Linked DNA regions of Homo sapiens: region 2 is linked to region 1. The links come from fine-mapping of genetic effects on gene expression. Tissue or cell type: testis. Region 1 holds a variant in brackets; the other region holds the start of a gene. All regions are shown on one strand. Distances are between the middles of the regions.

Region 1 (8,080 bases):
CGTCAGGCCGAGAGCCTCCGGTGCCTGAGGGGTACATGCTCCTCCCTGAGGCAAGAGGATTAAGAGGCCGGCCGGGGTCCTAAACCAAGGCTCCTCCCACTGCCCCGCAAGGCCGCGGTGACAGCCCCAGTCTAGGGGTCTGGATTCGGCGTGGGGAGGAGGGGTTCACTTTGTGTCAAATATCCCCCGTGTCTGCGACCTGCATCCTTGTCCATCACACTCCCTCACCCCAAAGCAAAGGCCTACAAAGATGGCTCGGATGGCTCTATTCACAGCAGGGGGCAGCCCTGTGTCTGGCCATGGGGAGCTTCTGAGAGGGTCTGGCATACTCACTCATGGGATTTACATGCTGCTCAAAAAGGGGGGCAGCCCTGTGTCCAGACACAGGGAGCGTCTGAGGGGGTCTGGCATACTCACTCATGGGATTTATATGCTGCTCAAAAAGGATATTATTTTCTAGGCGTTCTGAAGACATAGAAAAATGCTCACAATATAAGTGAAATACAAACCAGCATTTGGTAGAAACATCTACGGCCTGTGCCCATGCAAGCGAGGCCGGGCAGCGCCTCACCGTTGGTGGACAGGAGTGAGTGGGCGGCGTTCTGCTGTGGGAGCCACTTGATCTTGTTGATCTTCTCCTCTATCTCCAGGCTCTTGAGATAGTCAAACTCCGGCTCGTGGCTCTGGAAAGTGCTGTACACGTCGTATTCGCCCTGGCTGTGGGGCGCATTTTTACTCTGCAGGGAAACCCGGAGAAGGGGCCTGAGCACCGTGACCTGCAGGGCGACGGCTAGGACCTCCGGGGACCCAGCAGGGCCGGCCGTGGGACCAAGTGCCGAGCCGTGCCAGGGATCCAATTCGAGGGTCAAATGAAACTCTCTGCAGCTTAACCGGCCCATGACTTGCAGTGTGCCAGGGACAAGCCCCGCTCCCGTGCGGTCCCATGAAACACTCACACCCGAGCCGGCTAACTTGCTAATGCGAATGTTCCCCAGCGCCTGCTACAAGCTGGACACCCCACTAAGTCCTCCCCGCACCATCGCATTCTACCCTCCAGGCCTCCTCTGCTTGAGCACCACGACTCTCCCCATTTCACAGACCAGCAAACAGAGACTCAGAGGGGAAGTGACTTCCCAGAGCCGTGAGGTCACTCTCCGGCGAGCACCCCTCTGCCGAGGCCTGCCTGACGCCAAGGCTTGAGGCTCTGGCCACCCTCGTGTCTTGGGCCCTGACTTGCTCCTGGATTCCACGTGTCCAACTCAGGCCTGACTTGAGGAATAAATGAATTTGGGAGCAGACTTTAACATTGGGACAGAATGTCTGGCAATGTCAGACCTGGATTGGAATCTGTCCCCGGCTTTCCTCAGCAGTGCTTGGCCTGGTTTAGGCAGCAGAGCTCCTTCTAATAAAGACCCTTGACCGTGGAGCTCCCAGCATAGTCAGGTGGTGAGTCCACTGTGTGCGCCAGGGACCACGTTCCCAGGAGAGAGTTCAACTCATACGACAACACGAAACCCCAACCAGGGAGAAACGGAGACATTCAACCCAGAACAATTTCAAGATTTCCTGGTAATTTTTTTAAGTATCTATATTTCTATCCCTGTCTTGCTTTTGAAAAGCTTAGAAGTTCTCCAATATTTTTGCCTCTAATTCACTTCACTTCCCATGAGCACTCGCTATGACAAAGGTCAGTGGGACTAGAAGGAAGAAAACACTAAAGGAGAAAAATTCAAAATGAAGAAAATCGCATCAACCAATCCGATCTCTTTCTGCAGCTTGGCAAAAAGAAGGCTGAGCTTCGCAGTGCCTGGTGGGACACCCCACAGGTGCATCTGGTGAAGCCCACAGGTGCTGGCCGAGTGCTGTGTTTGAGGAACTGATTGGCAGCTAGGATGTGCCCCTTGTCAACTATTTTAACCCTCTGCACTCTGGGCTCCTCCTCTGTAAAATGAGGGGAGTAGCCGCACTGCACTACACCCACAGGGTCACCGTGAGGAGGGTTATGTGAGCCACCAAGATAAAGTCAGACTCAAGGATCCTCAGTTCGTGGGCCATGCTCAGGAGTGAATCGGGGGAAAGATGATTCCGCAGGTCCTCTCTTCACCCCCGGCTTCCTCCCCTCCCTCCTACCTCCCCTTCTCCACCTTCTCTTCTCCTCCTCCCCTCCCCTCCCCTGCCTCTCCTGCTCCATCCCCTCCTCCCTCCTCCTTGGTTTCCTGGATGTCTTCTGCATCTAATTCCAGGCACAGTCCGTGTTTGCGGGGGGAGACGCCCTCTCTGAGGCCGGGTGGTGTGTGACGTTGCTGGCCACTGTCCTGGCGTCGGGCAGCCAGGTCTGCTGTTCACTAGCTGGGTGGCTTCTCTGAGTTTCCGCATCTGTCACAGGGGTGTGGATCTGGCCCTCGGAGGTGAGCAGTGCAGAGTAAACCAGAAGCAACTCCAGAATACTTAGCAAGTGTTCTCAGTAAATGGGCTTTTGTCCCGAGGCTCTTTCAGTGTTCCAGAAACGTGGTCCTGGGCAGGTTGTCCAGGCCACTGCTGTCTTACCCAGAGTTCTGCTGGACAACAAGCCCCCGGGGGTGGGGGTGAGGACAGGGGTGAGGACAAGGGCCCAGGCCTGAGCAAAAACCACCTAGCTCAGTCTGAGGGCTGTGACAGCTGGGCAAGAGTGGAGTCCTCCCGCTCCCCAGTCTGGCCAGGACAACGCAGGTCACCCAGGCAGAGGAAGGTTTCACTGAAGGCACAAGCTGGGGCAGCAGCTGCCTGTGCCACATCCTGACCATTCATCCAGGGTCTAGGACAGAGCATGGGATGCAGGCAGCTCTCCGCAAACATCGGCTGAGGGCAGGGGGCTCAGAACCTGGCTTTGCCAGCCCACCCAGTGCACTCCCCCTACCACCGCCCGCCACTCCCACCTCGGCATTCCAAAGCATCCCATTCCCACCCCTGGAATCCATGCCCCTGGGAGATGTGATCCAGGCAAGACACCCCACACCTCCTGTCAGTTAAAAGCCCTCTTGTGGGTTGGAGTATAGTCCCCTCCCACCTCTCACCGCATCACCCCTTATCCCCCTTATCCTTATCCCCTCCCACCATGCCCGCCTCCCACCTGACTCTGCTCCCCACCCCTCCCACCTCCCACCAGACCCAGGGCTTCGCACCTCTGGTTCCCGCTGGAAGATGACGACCCGGCCGCCCTTGTCACCTGTGGCCAGCAGCTCTCCCGTGTGGTTGAACTCAACGGTAGAGATGATGTCAGCTGGGAGGGGAACAGCAAGACGGGAAGGGGTGGCTGTCAGAACCCGCCTCTCCCGGGTGCTCAACAGTGCCACAGCAATGGCGAGCTCCCCGCTCCCCGAGGCCCCACAGCCCTGGGCAGGAGGCAGCAGGGAGCCTGAGGGGTCAGGAGCATCGGCGAGGGGCCACCAACCTGTCCCCTCCTGCCCTCCTCTTCCCTCTGCACTGGCTGCAGGGCAGAGATCTCGGGACTTGGCACAGGCCTGGGGCGACCACAGTGGCTGGCAGACTTTATAGTAACTGGACACTCTATGGGACTCACGGTGGTATCTGAAGCCACCTGGATGTGGCCTCATCCTCCTGTCTTGAATCTCCCACACCTACCCCTGCCACCCAGGCCCCCATGCTCCAGCAACCTGGGTCAGGGAAGCCCTTCCCAATATCTCCATAGATAAGCGCAAGGCAACCCTCTGCTAGGGGCCCACTCAGGGCTTCCCACACAGTAGGACAGAGGTGAATTACCCCCTCTCCTTCAGACTCCTGCTCTGTGGCCCCACCTCCAGGCAGGCCTCTGGGATCGCTCTCTAATCTCTGCTCGCAGAAGCGAAGCTCAGCCCTGCCTGCCCTGACCCTCCCTGCACTTCATCCCAACCATGTTTCTTCAGGTCACTCAGGAACCTCTCCTTATGGAGTCACCCCCATACCTGGAGTCTTCAATGCCCAGGGCTGGCCTTCCTGGATGGGCAAGTGTTTGGAGAAAAAAGACAGCCCCATCTCCAGGCCCCACTTTTTGCATGTGGGAACTAGGGGAACACCCCTTCCATCACCAACATTCTCAGGTTCTACGAGTCACAGAGATGAGTGGCCTGCACATTCTGGGTGGCCAGCCCTGGGAGTGGGGGAGAGCAGGGGAGGACAAGGCCCTAGCCTGGAAGAGAAACCCCCACTGGAGGACAGCTCACCAACCTGAAGCCTGAGGCCTGCTCCACCAA[C/A]AAGTTTTACTGCAGCCCCAAAATGATTATTACTTTTAATTTGAAGTCATTCTTAATATTTGAAAAGTAGAAGATTTCCTATAAAAATCCACATTTCCAGTATGTCTTGGAAGATGGAAAGTTCTAGAATACCATCCCCATAGGCCCAAGCAGCAAAAGCTAGTAGGAGCCCGGGATGGCCCGCTGCTGTGAATGGGACCTCTGTCGTTCTTTGCTCTCCTGGCCTGGATTCTGTAGTCTCCAAAATCTGTGATACCACCTTTAGCAAAATGGATCTACTTTCAAACCAGCCACAGATCTGACCGTTGCTCCCTGTAGCCACAGAGAGGACACTCCACAGGGTTCCCTGTCCCAGCCTCTGTTCTCCCTCTGGCGGCCAACGTGATGACCAAACTCCTGAGCCAGTGCATCCCTGTGTCCCTCTATTCAAAACCCTTCATTGGTCACCATAACTGAATTCTGATCCCTCCTCAGCCTCATCCTCTGCAGCTTCCCCAGTCTCAGGTGATGACAGCTCTATTGTTCACTTGCTCAGGCCCAAGCCTTGGAGTTTCTCGTTCTCTCTCTCTCTCTCTCTCTCTCTCTCTCTCTCTCTCTCTCTCTCTCTCTCTCACACACACACACACACACACACACACACACACACACACACCCCACATCCAATCCTGCCTGCTCAGCCTTCACAGCATATCGGGATGCCAGCCACTCTCCCACCTCTCACTGGATGACTGCCACAGCTCTTTCTCCCTGGCTATGACGTAGCCTCAACAGACTGGCAGCAGAGAGGCTGGTAACACCCAGGACTGATCCTGGCACTCCCCTGCTCAAAACCCTCCAGCGGCTCCCATTGTGTACTCAGAGAAAAGCACAGAGTGTTCTAAAGGCAGCCCCCACCTGCCGAGGCCCAGGTGGGCCGCATCTGGAGCCAAACCTTCACCCCTCCCATGGTGGGCCAGGTGACCTGTTCTCTGCCCCCCACCTTGATTCTGGGCTTGTCCCTGTGTTTTGCTTTGGCCTGCAGAACGGCAATTCGACAAGCCGCAAACAGAGATGCAAAGGGGCTTAGGTACTGGGGGTTGCCATCAACGCCTCTGGCGGTACCAGGAGCAGGACCTGCGCAGGCTGGCCCACTGGCCCCTGAGGGGGAGGAGGAAGAGTGGGTGCAGAAGAACCCCCCCAACCCCCGGCCAAGCCCAGCCTCCAGCAGGGCCCCACTGACCCACAGAGCAGGGCAAGCCCAGCCAAGCCCAGACCACAGAATCGCAGATGCAAGATGATGAAAACATTTACTGTTGTATGCACGGGGTCTCGTGTTTTTAACTCAGCAAAAGGTACCTCCTCCCCTTCCCCAGCCTCATCTACTGCTCTCCACCTGCTTATTCCCCTCCAAACACCAGGCTCCTTGCCCTTTCCCAAAAGTCCTGGCCACCTGCTGTCCCAAGACCTGCTCTCTCGGCCTGCAGTGGCTTTCCCTGGGTACCAGCATGGCTCCTTCCTATTCTTCCAATTCTGCCCCACTGCTGCCTTCCCGTGAGCACAGCTTGGATCACCTTGCTGAAACTGCTGTCTGCACCCCAGCACCCTCATACAGGACACCCTGACCATCCCTGCCCCAACCTAATCTGATGTTTTTCTTTCTGTAAAGGCTTTTATCATCTGTAGGCTCTCTTCCTGGCCAGAACGTAAACTTCATGAGGGCAGGAGCCTCAGGCTTAATTCACGGCTTCAAATGGTGCCTGTATGCAGTAGCCAGGCCAGAGATATCTATCCAAGAAATGCCTTTTCTTTTTCCAGTCTGGGCCTTTTAGGACAGCTCCTGGCCTGCCCTGGCCTTCTGAGCCATGAGTCAATGCCAGCTTTGAGGCAACAGAAAAGATTGAGAGAGGGTGGTTAGAAGTGGGATGACGGGCTGGACGTATCCATCCATCCATCAAGACAGATGCACATGTCACTGAACTTAAAAAGACAAGATAAGAAAAGCAGCTCTGTGGGAACACGGAAACGCCCACCGGGCATGGAGTCAGAACAGGGTCAGGTCCCAGCTGTCCTGACATTGTCCCTCCGTGGGGCAGCCTGCCCTGGCCCAGGGACACCCAGACACATCTGGGCAGAAGCCAGAACCACCCAGCCCAGCTGTGCTAGGGTCCCCGATGGGGCGCTGGTTCTTGCTATTTCATATTAAAACCCCCTGAGGGTGAAGGAACGGGATATAAAATTGGGTATAAAATGCTTGTAATGATCTACATCAGTGATTATAGCCATGTGAAATAAGCAAAGAAACTGGGCAGTGGGGAAAAAAGCTGGAAGAGAATTCTCCAAAATGTGAACGGAGGTAGCTTTAGGGTAGCTGGAACAAAATAATATTTCCTCCTCTTTCAACTTGTCCATATTTTCTAGATTTTCTATAATGAAGTTACATCATTTTTTAATAGCTGTATTGAGGTACAATCAATATATAAAACGCTGCACATACTTAATGTATATAATTTGATGAGGGTGGGCATACACACAGTGTATATTATTTTTATGATGGGAACATAACAATGCTATTAAATTAAAATGCCAATATAACTATTGCTATCCCAAGTAAATGCAGTCCACAAATGCTGGGTGGTTACCAGGCAACACACACTAATGTCTGTGGGCAATTTACAATTTATATGTCATTTTCATATCTGCTACCTCCTTTAACCTCACGCCAGCCCCTGCGGGAGACACTACTGTGATTTCCATTTGGCAGCAGAGGAGATGGAGGCTCCCTCCATGAGAGACTACGCCATGAGCTCTTTGCAGACAGAAGTGCTGGTTGGAGTCTTGGCTCCAGTGCTTCAGCTGTGTGGTCTTGGGTAAGCCACACAACTTCTCTGAGCCTTGGTTTCATTATCTGTAGTGTGCTTATGGTGGAGCCTTCCCAGGATTAGAGGTTCAAGTGAGACAAGGAGGTGAGAGGGTCTGGGAGGGAGGAAGAGAAGACGAGGACTCCAGGAATAATGAATCACCAAAATGTACTGGACAGAAACTAAAGCTCCCGGTCACCTGTGCTCCTGGCTGCCACAGAATTGACAGCCACAAGCTCTGCAATGTGGCGATGGATCTGGGCGCCCAACCTCACTGTGGATGGTCCCGCCTACCAGTCCCGCCAGTCGCTCCCTGCAAACATCTACAGAACCACCACCAGACCTCAGATCCCCTCTTGCCTGAGCACTGCTTCCTCTGGCCCATGAAGGAGCTAGTGGATGTTTAATGTCTACTCATTTTTATAGGTAAATGTCTTCAGGATTTGCCTTAGGAAAAGTTGCCTCTCTTGAGTGCCAGAAATTCTCATCAGTAAGGCCATAAAATTGGTTGTTTTGGCAGCCACCTCTGTGAAGAAAGTCCATCTTCTCATCTTGGATTATCTGACATTTCCAGCTCCAATACCACCTCCTCCAGGAAGCCTTCCTGGATAGTCCCCTTTCCCCCTCCCCCAGTTAAGTGGTCTCTCCTACAACTGCAGGCTTTTATTTTATTTATTTATTTTTTTGAGACAGAGTCTCACTTTGTCACCCAGGATGGAGTGCAGCGGTGCAATCTTGGCCCACTGCAACCTGTACCTCCTAGGTTCAAGTGATTCTCGTGCCTCAGCCTCCCGAGTAGTTGGGATTACAGGCACCTGCCACCACACCCAGCTAATTTTTGTATTTTTAGTAGAGATGGGGTTTCACCATATTGGTCAGGTTGGTAAACTCCTGACCTCAAGTGATCTGCCCACCTCGACCTCCCAAAGTGCTGGGATTACAGGTGTGAGCCACCGCGCCCGGCCTACAAGTGCAGTCTTAAGGCCATTGTGTGCTCTTCACTAGGTACTGACA
Region 2 (8,098 bases), 90 kb after region 1:
ATGGTGTCAGATGGCTGCCAGCCACCACAAGGTTTCCCTGTTCCCATCACAAGAGAGGGACCAACTACCTGTGGTTCTCCCTACTTTCCACTCAACCTCCAGAACTGACTCCCACATCCATTCTGGAACCAGTCACTGCAAGGGGAATGAGATCATCCTTGCACTGATCACATCCAGCTATGGCCTGAGATCTCTTACTAGGAACCATATGTGTTCTCCTTGGAAGAAGAGAGACTAACTGTTGTGGAGATCAGCTGCAACGTCCACCATAAGGGTGCAGATTTCACTGAATGCTGAGTCTCCCACAAGCAGCATCCCCTCTTCAGTGTGGTTTCCTGGGCAGAAAGTAGATGGTATCCAGGGCACAACCAGTTCAAAACCTGCAGACAATTCCATGCAGGAAAACCTGCCTGCCTGCTGCGTTCAGACAGCCTCAGGACCCCATGATGACCTTAGCAATTCCCAAGCATCCTTCACTTCCTCAACTATAAAATCAGGACAACTCTGTGGGAATAAACAGACTACTCTGAAATCACACAGGACATCCAGGGATGGGAGTTAGGAAAACATGGGTACATCCTTTATGCAGATGCAAAAAGCATGAGTGTCCAACAGTGTGTGATGGCTGAGATGCTCAAACAAGGGGAAGCTGTGCCTCTGGCCTCAGCTGAAAAGTGTGCTCCGGAAGTGCCTTACCTGTCAGGCACATGAGAGTGACTGTTGCTCCCCAGAAAGACCCAGTCACTGCCAGGATCTACCTGGTCAGCCTGAACCACCTCCCCTTGGCTGAGCTCCTGTGTCTTGGTCATCACTGCTGCCCAGGGCAGGATGTGCTTGGCAAATGGTGCTAAGCAAAGGAAGGATGGATGGGTTTTGTAAGTTCAGTCTAGTCTGGAAGTGCTTATTCAACTCACTCTAAAGCTAAGTACTGAGGCCTGCCGCAAAAAGAGAAAGAACAGAGCCAGGAAGAGTCCTTCCTGGAACCATATCCAGCTCTTGAGAAATGTCTAACTAGATGGAGACTTCCTAGCACCCTCCAGGGTCCAGGGCCCAGGGCCCAGTGCCCTATCAGCTGCACTGCTCTCCCCACACCCTGACCCCATTCATGCAAAGTTCTCTGTGCCCCCAGGTGGCCTGCAGGTACACCTAATCATCACCATAACCCTCAATGCAGTTGAGCCCAGCCAAGAGTAAGCCACCCAGCCCTGCCACCAAAAAAAAAAAAAAAAAAAAAAAAAAAAATCCAACCTGCTCTGACGAATTCACACCAAGATGTGAATGACTAACAAAACCTAAACTCTTCCTAAGATGTTTGAGATTTTACAAGAGACTCAGGAACCCAAGCAGGGCTCCCACGGGCAAAGATGACATTGGACATGGGGCCCAAAGGATGAGAAAGAGTCAGTGGTGAGAAAGGCAGGAGGTGGGTATTCCAGGCAACAGCCATTGCAAACGCCCTGAAGCAAGAAAGAAAATGGCCTGCTCAAGGAACAGGAGGTAGATCAGAGCAGCTGGGGTGTGGTGGGGGAGTGTAGACTCAACCACAGGTAGAACAGGAGTTTGTGCACCTGGTTCTTCCGCAAACTGAATTTTAGCATCCACTGTTTGCCCACAGGCTCTTCCAGTTACAAGGCATATAAATAATAACAATGCCATGTGTTCAATGCCTCCAACAACCCAAGCACTGTGCTGGGCACTTTTGATATTAGCAAAATCACTGATCATCCCAGCAACCCTGTATGAAAGGTCGTTATTATTTCTCCCTTTACAAAGGGAAAGTGAAGCTCAGGAAGGTGTAGTAACTTGTCCAAGGCTGCACAGCAGTCAGGAGTCAGAGGCAGGACTTTAACATGATTCAAGTCTGACATTCTGACATTCAAATCTGTGACCTTCCCTGTGCTCTGAGCATGAAATATAGTCAGGATGCAACAGTGTGAAAGTGTGTTTTTCATTAGGGAGGCCAGAATTCTACCTATTATAATGATTATTATTGTTTCTTGTTCCGATCCTGCTCTCTGCATCCGCAGCACCTGAGCCCTATGCCCTGCACACACTGGCACTCGGTCTGGACCAGGCACAAGGCCAGGCCTTGGTTTGTTCATCTCAAGGTGGGGATAAGGCGTAGGTGAGCCTTCGTATGAGGTCCCAGCACACAGCAGGTGCTCAGCATCCTTTGGCTGCACGTTAGCAATGCATAGCTCTGAACGGCTCCTTCAACACCGTTGCACCTGCTCCTCACAGAAACCTCCAGACCCTGTAGGCAGGATTCACTCCCATTTTACAGATGGGGAGACTGAGCCCTGGTGAGAAGACAGACCTCAAGGTCATATAGCTCCCTGATAGAATTCAGGCCGCACAAGGGCAGGGAGTCTTTGTCCAGTCCCCAGGGATAAAACAGTGCCCGGCATGCAGCAGGTGCTCGGTAAATATCTCGTGTCTGGATGAAGGATTGGATAGCACTGCTCTGACCTCCAGAACTGTGCCGTCCCCGTTCCTGTGCCCTGCTGAGGGCTGGTGAATTTATGAAAGAAAAGGGGACGGGCAGGGTGCAGAGGGAATTAATGTTTGAAAATGTCCACCATGGCGCTTTTTACGCCTGGTCCCACAACGAGCCCTGCGCCCCATCCCACCGTCATCCCCAACGTAGAGATGAGCAAACAGAGGCTTGCTCCAGGAAGCCAGACCACAGCGAGCCTGGGAGCAGCGGGGCAACCTGCCAAGATCCGCTCTCGGCCCGAGCCAGGCCACCGAGGCACGGGCCAGCAACCCGGCGGCTTCCTCCAACCCTCTGTCGCTGCAGGCTGCGAGCAGAAACCACATCCCGGACCCACGCTGATCCCGACTCAGCCTCGCCGAAGCAGGCGACAAAGGACCGCTCTCAGCTCCCCGGGCCTCCCAAAGCCGCGGCCGGGTCAGAGCCCCACCGGCCCGGAGGCCCGGGCAGCCCTGCCCCTCTCTCGCACACACCCGGCGGCGAAGCGTGCGTGACTCAGCGGTTCTCCCGCCGGGAGCGGGCGCGGCCCCCGCAGCCTCCCTCCGCCCAGGTCCCACGCCCAGCCTCTGCCTCCCGGGCCAGGGCGCCCCGAGCCCGCCCGCGCCCGCGCTCGCGCTGCGCTCCCCGGGCCTCCGCGGGGCTCCGGCTCCGCTCGGCCTCATTTCCGGCAGAGCCAGGCTTCGAGGAGGCGGACCCAGCCGCAGGAGCCCGGTCTCCGCCGCCTGGCCCACTCGGTCTCCCTGACACAGGCACCCACGCGCACCTGCCCCGCGGGACCCGTGCCCAGGGCCCCTCCCACTGGGGCACCCACCCGGGGAATCCGCGCACACTTCTGCGGCCGGGCCGCCAGCCCGTGGGTTAGCGGCTGACAGTCCCCGCACTCGGGCAGGGCTCCAGCACAGGCGGCCCCGAGCCCAGACCTCCCGGTCCCCATCCTCCATCGGGGTCACTCCGCGGGCCCTGCCTGCGCACGGAAGCTGTCCCCACTGTTCCCCTAGCGAGGCAGACCAGGGGGCCCCCGGAAGTTCCAGGCCTGTAAGAGAGGGGCGCTGACCCACCAGCCTCGGGGGTAGGGTGGGGGTGGGGGTTGGGCTTGTAGGGCCAACTTAGGGGATTTTAAACAGGGCCTGTTTGGGATGGCATGTCCCACTTTTTTGGAAAATCCCGACAGTTAGCCCAGCTGCTCCTGTCTCAATATAACTCACCAGGAATAAAAAGGCCAGCCCCAAACCAGCCGCCTTCTCCCTCCCACTCAGGGACCCTGCCTCTGGAGGACAGGGAGGGGCCCGGGCAGGCGGGCCTCCCAGGAGGATCTGGCAATGGATTATGTTTTTTTCCCCCCGGGTCCCTCTTCTTCTCCAGGGAGAGGGCAGCCTAGAAAATTCTGCGGGCTTTGGGCAGGGCTGAAATGGCAAATCCAGGATTTAAACCATTAAATTTCCCCGAGATTTCTTCACCAGATTAGCCACAGCCGTGGCCTTTTAAAAAATTATGGTCAGGGCCGAATCAGGATGCCACCTGGCTTGGGAGAGGAAAGCTGCCTCCCGGAGGGCGGCGCGGAGGAGGGCGCTGCCCTGTGCCGGCGCTGGGCAGCGGAGGCCGGTACCCTCGGGCTCCCTCCCTCCTGGGCCCCGGGCAGGGTGGGATGGGATGGGGTGGGGTGGGGTGGGATGGGGTGGGGTGGGGTGGGGCGGGGGGACACGACACACATCGCGCGGTCCAAACCTTCGGAGGGCATTCGGTGCGACGGCATCCCCACGCCGCGGCCGGCCGGAGGGGTCTCAGACAACACGTACGTTACCTTCAGTCACATAGCTGTGGTCCCGCAGGAAGCTGTGGTTAATTTTCCGCGTGTCCGTGTCCTCGCCCATTGAAGGCCGTGCCCGGTGCTCTGGGCATGCCCCGCCGCCACACACCGATGCAATCCGCAGAGGTCGCGCCGGGCGCGCGGGCCATGCCGCCGCAGCCTAGCAGGGGCGCGGGCCGCCGGGGCCCCGAAGGGAGGGCATCGCGGCAGGGGGACGGGCGGGGGCGGCCGGGGGCGGGCGCCGCGGTCAAGCGAGCGCGCGGTGGGCGGGCGGCGGCCGCGGGTTCGGGCGGGCCGGGGCCCAGGCGCGCATCCCGGCCGGCCCGTGCGCGCTGCGTCCGTGCGCCCGGCGGCGGGGCCTGGTGCCGGTGCGCCTGGCTGCGGCGACGGCGGCGAGGGGACGCGCGCGGCGCTGCGCTGCGCCGACCAAGCCGGGGCCGAGCCGGGCTGCGCGGGCTGGGGCCGCCGCCGCCGCCGCTGTCGCAGGCCCCTCCCTCGCGCCGCCCGCTCTCCGCCCCCGCGGCCCTGCAGGTGGAGCCGGCGCCCAAGCCGAGGCTGCACCGCCGTGCTCGGGCCCTCGCGGTGGGCACCTTGGTGCTGGGTGCGCCACGGGGGAGGGAGGAAGGAGACCGCCAGCTTGCGGGGAGAGGGTGATCAGCTGAGCTTGGGGGGAGGGTACCTTGGGTGCCCAGGTGCTCCAGTTATGGGAGAGAAGGCCAAGAGCCGGGGTGCTGGGAAGGGGGCAGGAGGAGAGCAGCCTCGCAGGCAGAAGGCAGAAAGGACTAGGAAGGAAGGAGTGGGGTCGCAGTTGAAGAGGGCGCACCTGGAGAATGGGGACTCGGGGGAGGGGAAGGACACTGTCTCCCTTCATTAGTAGAAGAGGGTGGGTCGCGCAAGTTCTGGGGCCCGTTGGGAGCATTAAGTACATGTGAAGAAGCTGGTGGAGGGGGTCCAGCAGCCGACAAGGCAAAACTGGATGAAATGGCTGGAGGGGTGATTGGGCCTCCCCCAGGCAGGGCTCTGAGATCTCTCCTCATGCCCACCTCTCCTGACGAGTGAGAAAGTTAAAGAAATACAGAGCTAGGTACCTCCAAAACCAGGCTGGAAAATGCGTCCCCCTCCTCCCTTCCCTCCCTCCCCTCCAAACCCAGGGCTCTGCCAAACAGGAACCTCCCTCTGGTAATCAGCCTGGCACATAGTGGGCCCTCAAAAAATATTTGCCTCCTGTTTTGCCAAGCTGCCACCTCCTCCACCGTGACCCACCGCCTAATGAATCACAGTCCCCTGCACGGGACACAAGCCCCAGTGGGGATTCAGAGGTGTGGGTGAGGAACCATCAGCCCTCCCTAGGAGCTCAACAGAGCCTTCCTGGAAAGCGAGGGACTCTGTGGCTTGCCTGGGAGGGGTAAGTGCAGTGGGGTGACCAGAGCTGCAGGGGCTCTTGGGTCTAAGGCATCAGTGGAGCCATGCTCCAGGTGGGGGCTGGTCTGTAATGGCCTCCACTTGTTTCAAATGGTTCTGGGGGAACTCCAGACAGCTCCCCAAACTGCAGTGGAGGTAGGAGAGTCCAAAGGCGTTGGGGGCAGGGAGACTGGGGCTGTGGGAAAGACGAGGGAAGGTGATGCCGTCTCAGATTTCTTGGAGATTGAGAGGGAGTTTTTGAAGCTACAGCTTTCGTGCCTTTGAAATCCCCAGAATGGACCTATGAGGAGATGAAAGCCCCCCAGCAGCCCCACCAGCACTCTGCAGGCTGTCATGCAAGGGCTGGCCTGGGGAGAGGCCCTGGGGCCCTGCCAGCACCTGCTTTGGCAAGTGCCCTGCCCTGTTCCAGCCTCTACCTTTTCACTGTGGAACAAGCCAAAATCTCCCAGCTGTGCAGACTCCATTCAAGGACCAGGTAAATGCAAGGGCCGGAAGGATGTGCTTGTTCTTTGTCACTTTCTACCCCGTAGGAAAGTGACCGACACCCACATTGGCCCCCACCCACCTGGCATGTTCTCCTCTCTCTCTCTCACCTGTCTGCTCACATGCCCCCCACCTCACATCCTAAGGCCAGCCCCCCACTCTCTGTCCACACCCCCTCACCTCTCTAGCTGGAGCCAGCAAAATGGCTATGCTGGGAGAAAGACAGGCTGGGTTCAAGTCCTGACCACAAGGGGGCCCAGGCACAACCTCATCTGTAAAGTGGATGTGATGGCAGGAGTGGCCCCACTGGGTTGGGGTGGCCAGTCCTGCTCAGCAGGGGTCAGGCCTCCTGGGAGCTCTCTTGTTATCATGCTGAGGCCCACCCTCCCGCATGTTCCTCAGCCTCCCTCTCTGATCATGGAGAAGTCCCCTCTCCCTATCTGTCAATCCTGCCAAAACACCCACCCTATGCTGGCATCAGCCTCATCTCCCGGGATGTCCTGGACTACAATGAAAACAGCCCCACTCTGGCCTGACACAGTACATCATCCCTTTCATCAGCTTCTGAGCCATGCTGGGGACCCTGCAGTGGGTGGTCTTTCCAACCTGACTGGGCCCCAAGGCTTGCATCCATCCCCTCCTCACCCCTCACCACCCCATCCTGCCCCACCCCCACCACAAGCAGTGTCTGGGCTCCTCCACACTGTCTCCTCCATTTCCTGGAAGCCCTCCCCCTCCAGCACAACCGAGGACTCTCCCTCAGCCCCCTGCCCACCCCCCACCTCCACTAAATCACACAATCTGCTGCTTCCTCATCTGTATCTGCACACAGCCCTGCCCCCGCTGACAGAGCCTGAGCTCCAGATCCTGCCACCCCCAGCCTCTCTGTACAGACTCCTCTCTGTACTTTCATTCATTCAATGAGGAATGTTTATTGAGCATCTACTATGTGTAGGCATGTTCCCAGCACTAGGGTAGTGTGGAAGACAGAATAGAGAAATGCTCTGCTCTCGTGGAGCTGGCCTCCCAGTGGGGTGAGATGGACAGCATAAAGTGAGCATGTACTGTGTGGGCCATGACTGGTGCAGAGGAGAAGGCGGGAATGGAGATGGAGATGAACGGGGATGGAGATGGGGATGGAGATGGAGATGAAGGCGGGGATGGAGATGGAGATAGAAAGGAACGGGGAGGAGGAGGTGCCATTTTATAAAGGTGAGTGTAGAGGAAAGCTCAATAAGGTGAAATTTGTCAGCATCTCTCCAGATGCTTCTCACAGCGTAAGCCTGCTTGGGTCTCTTCCACATTCAAAAGCTATCCTCACTCCGTGTCCCTTCAGCCACCAGCACATTGCATTTCTGCCATTCACAACCACAATGCCAAAAGGGTACAGCTACACTCGCCATCTCCTCACTCACTGCCGTGCCCTCCAACCTGGCTTCTTGCCATCCATCCCACCCCAGAAAAGAAACTTGTGTCAGACGGCATGAGAATGACTTTCCTGTTCCTGGAACCAGTGGACGCATGCTGGCCTCTCTCTATGCTGAGTTCTCGTGGTCTCACCCTGTGGACCATGCGCCTCCCTTTACTTCAGTGGCACCACCTTTCGCTGCCACTTCTCAGCAGGTTTACATGCTCCACTCCTTCTGACGGCCCCACCAGGCTATGTCTCCCTGTGCTTCTGTGCCCCCAACTTGTTGTAATTGACAGAGAGAACATGCATGGAAAGTGTGCTGTGCACCGCACCATGTCCCCTCAAGTGCACAGGCTGAAGCCCTAACCCCCAATGTGATGATGTTTGCAGGTGGGGCCTTTGGGAGATTTGGGTTAGACAAGGCCATGAGGGTGGGGTCTTCATGGAGAGATTAGTGCCCCTATAGGAAGAGACCAAAGAG

Direction of the effects. Alleles are on the strand shown, and positions count from the first base shown. SD is a standard deviation of normalised expression in the study named.
For the expression in testis of the gene that starts at base 4,750 in region 2, A is the low allele of the variant in region 1 and C is the other (small effect, 0.21 SD a copy in GTEx).

Evidence for each region. PIP is the estimated chance that this variant, and not a neighbour inherited with it, causes the effect.
Region 2: it holds the start of PPP2R2C, and the variant in region 1 is fine-mapped to the expression of PPP2R2C in testis (GTEx, PIP above 0.99).

The regions. Positions count from the first base shown.
Region 1 is chr4:6,377,836-6,385,915 of GRCh38, forward strand. PPP2R2C (protein phosphatase 2 regulatory subunit Bgamma) reads right to left here. Exons shown (of 9, transcript NM_020416.4): 2 at 3,162-3,259; 3 at 572-737. Among named protein-coding and RNA genes, the nearest start is that of PPP2R2C, 91 kb to the right of the region's middle. The variant C/A (reference allele first, on the strand shown) is at 4,230.
Region 2 is chr4:6,467,865-6,475,962 of GRCh38, forward strand. It overlaps PPP2R2C (protein phosphatase 2 regulatory subunit Bgamma), which reads right to left and starts at 4,750. Exons shown (of 9, transcript NM_020416.4): 1 at 4,296-4,750. The coding sequence starts at 4,365. RefSeq lists an enhancer at 2,229-3,059.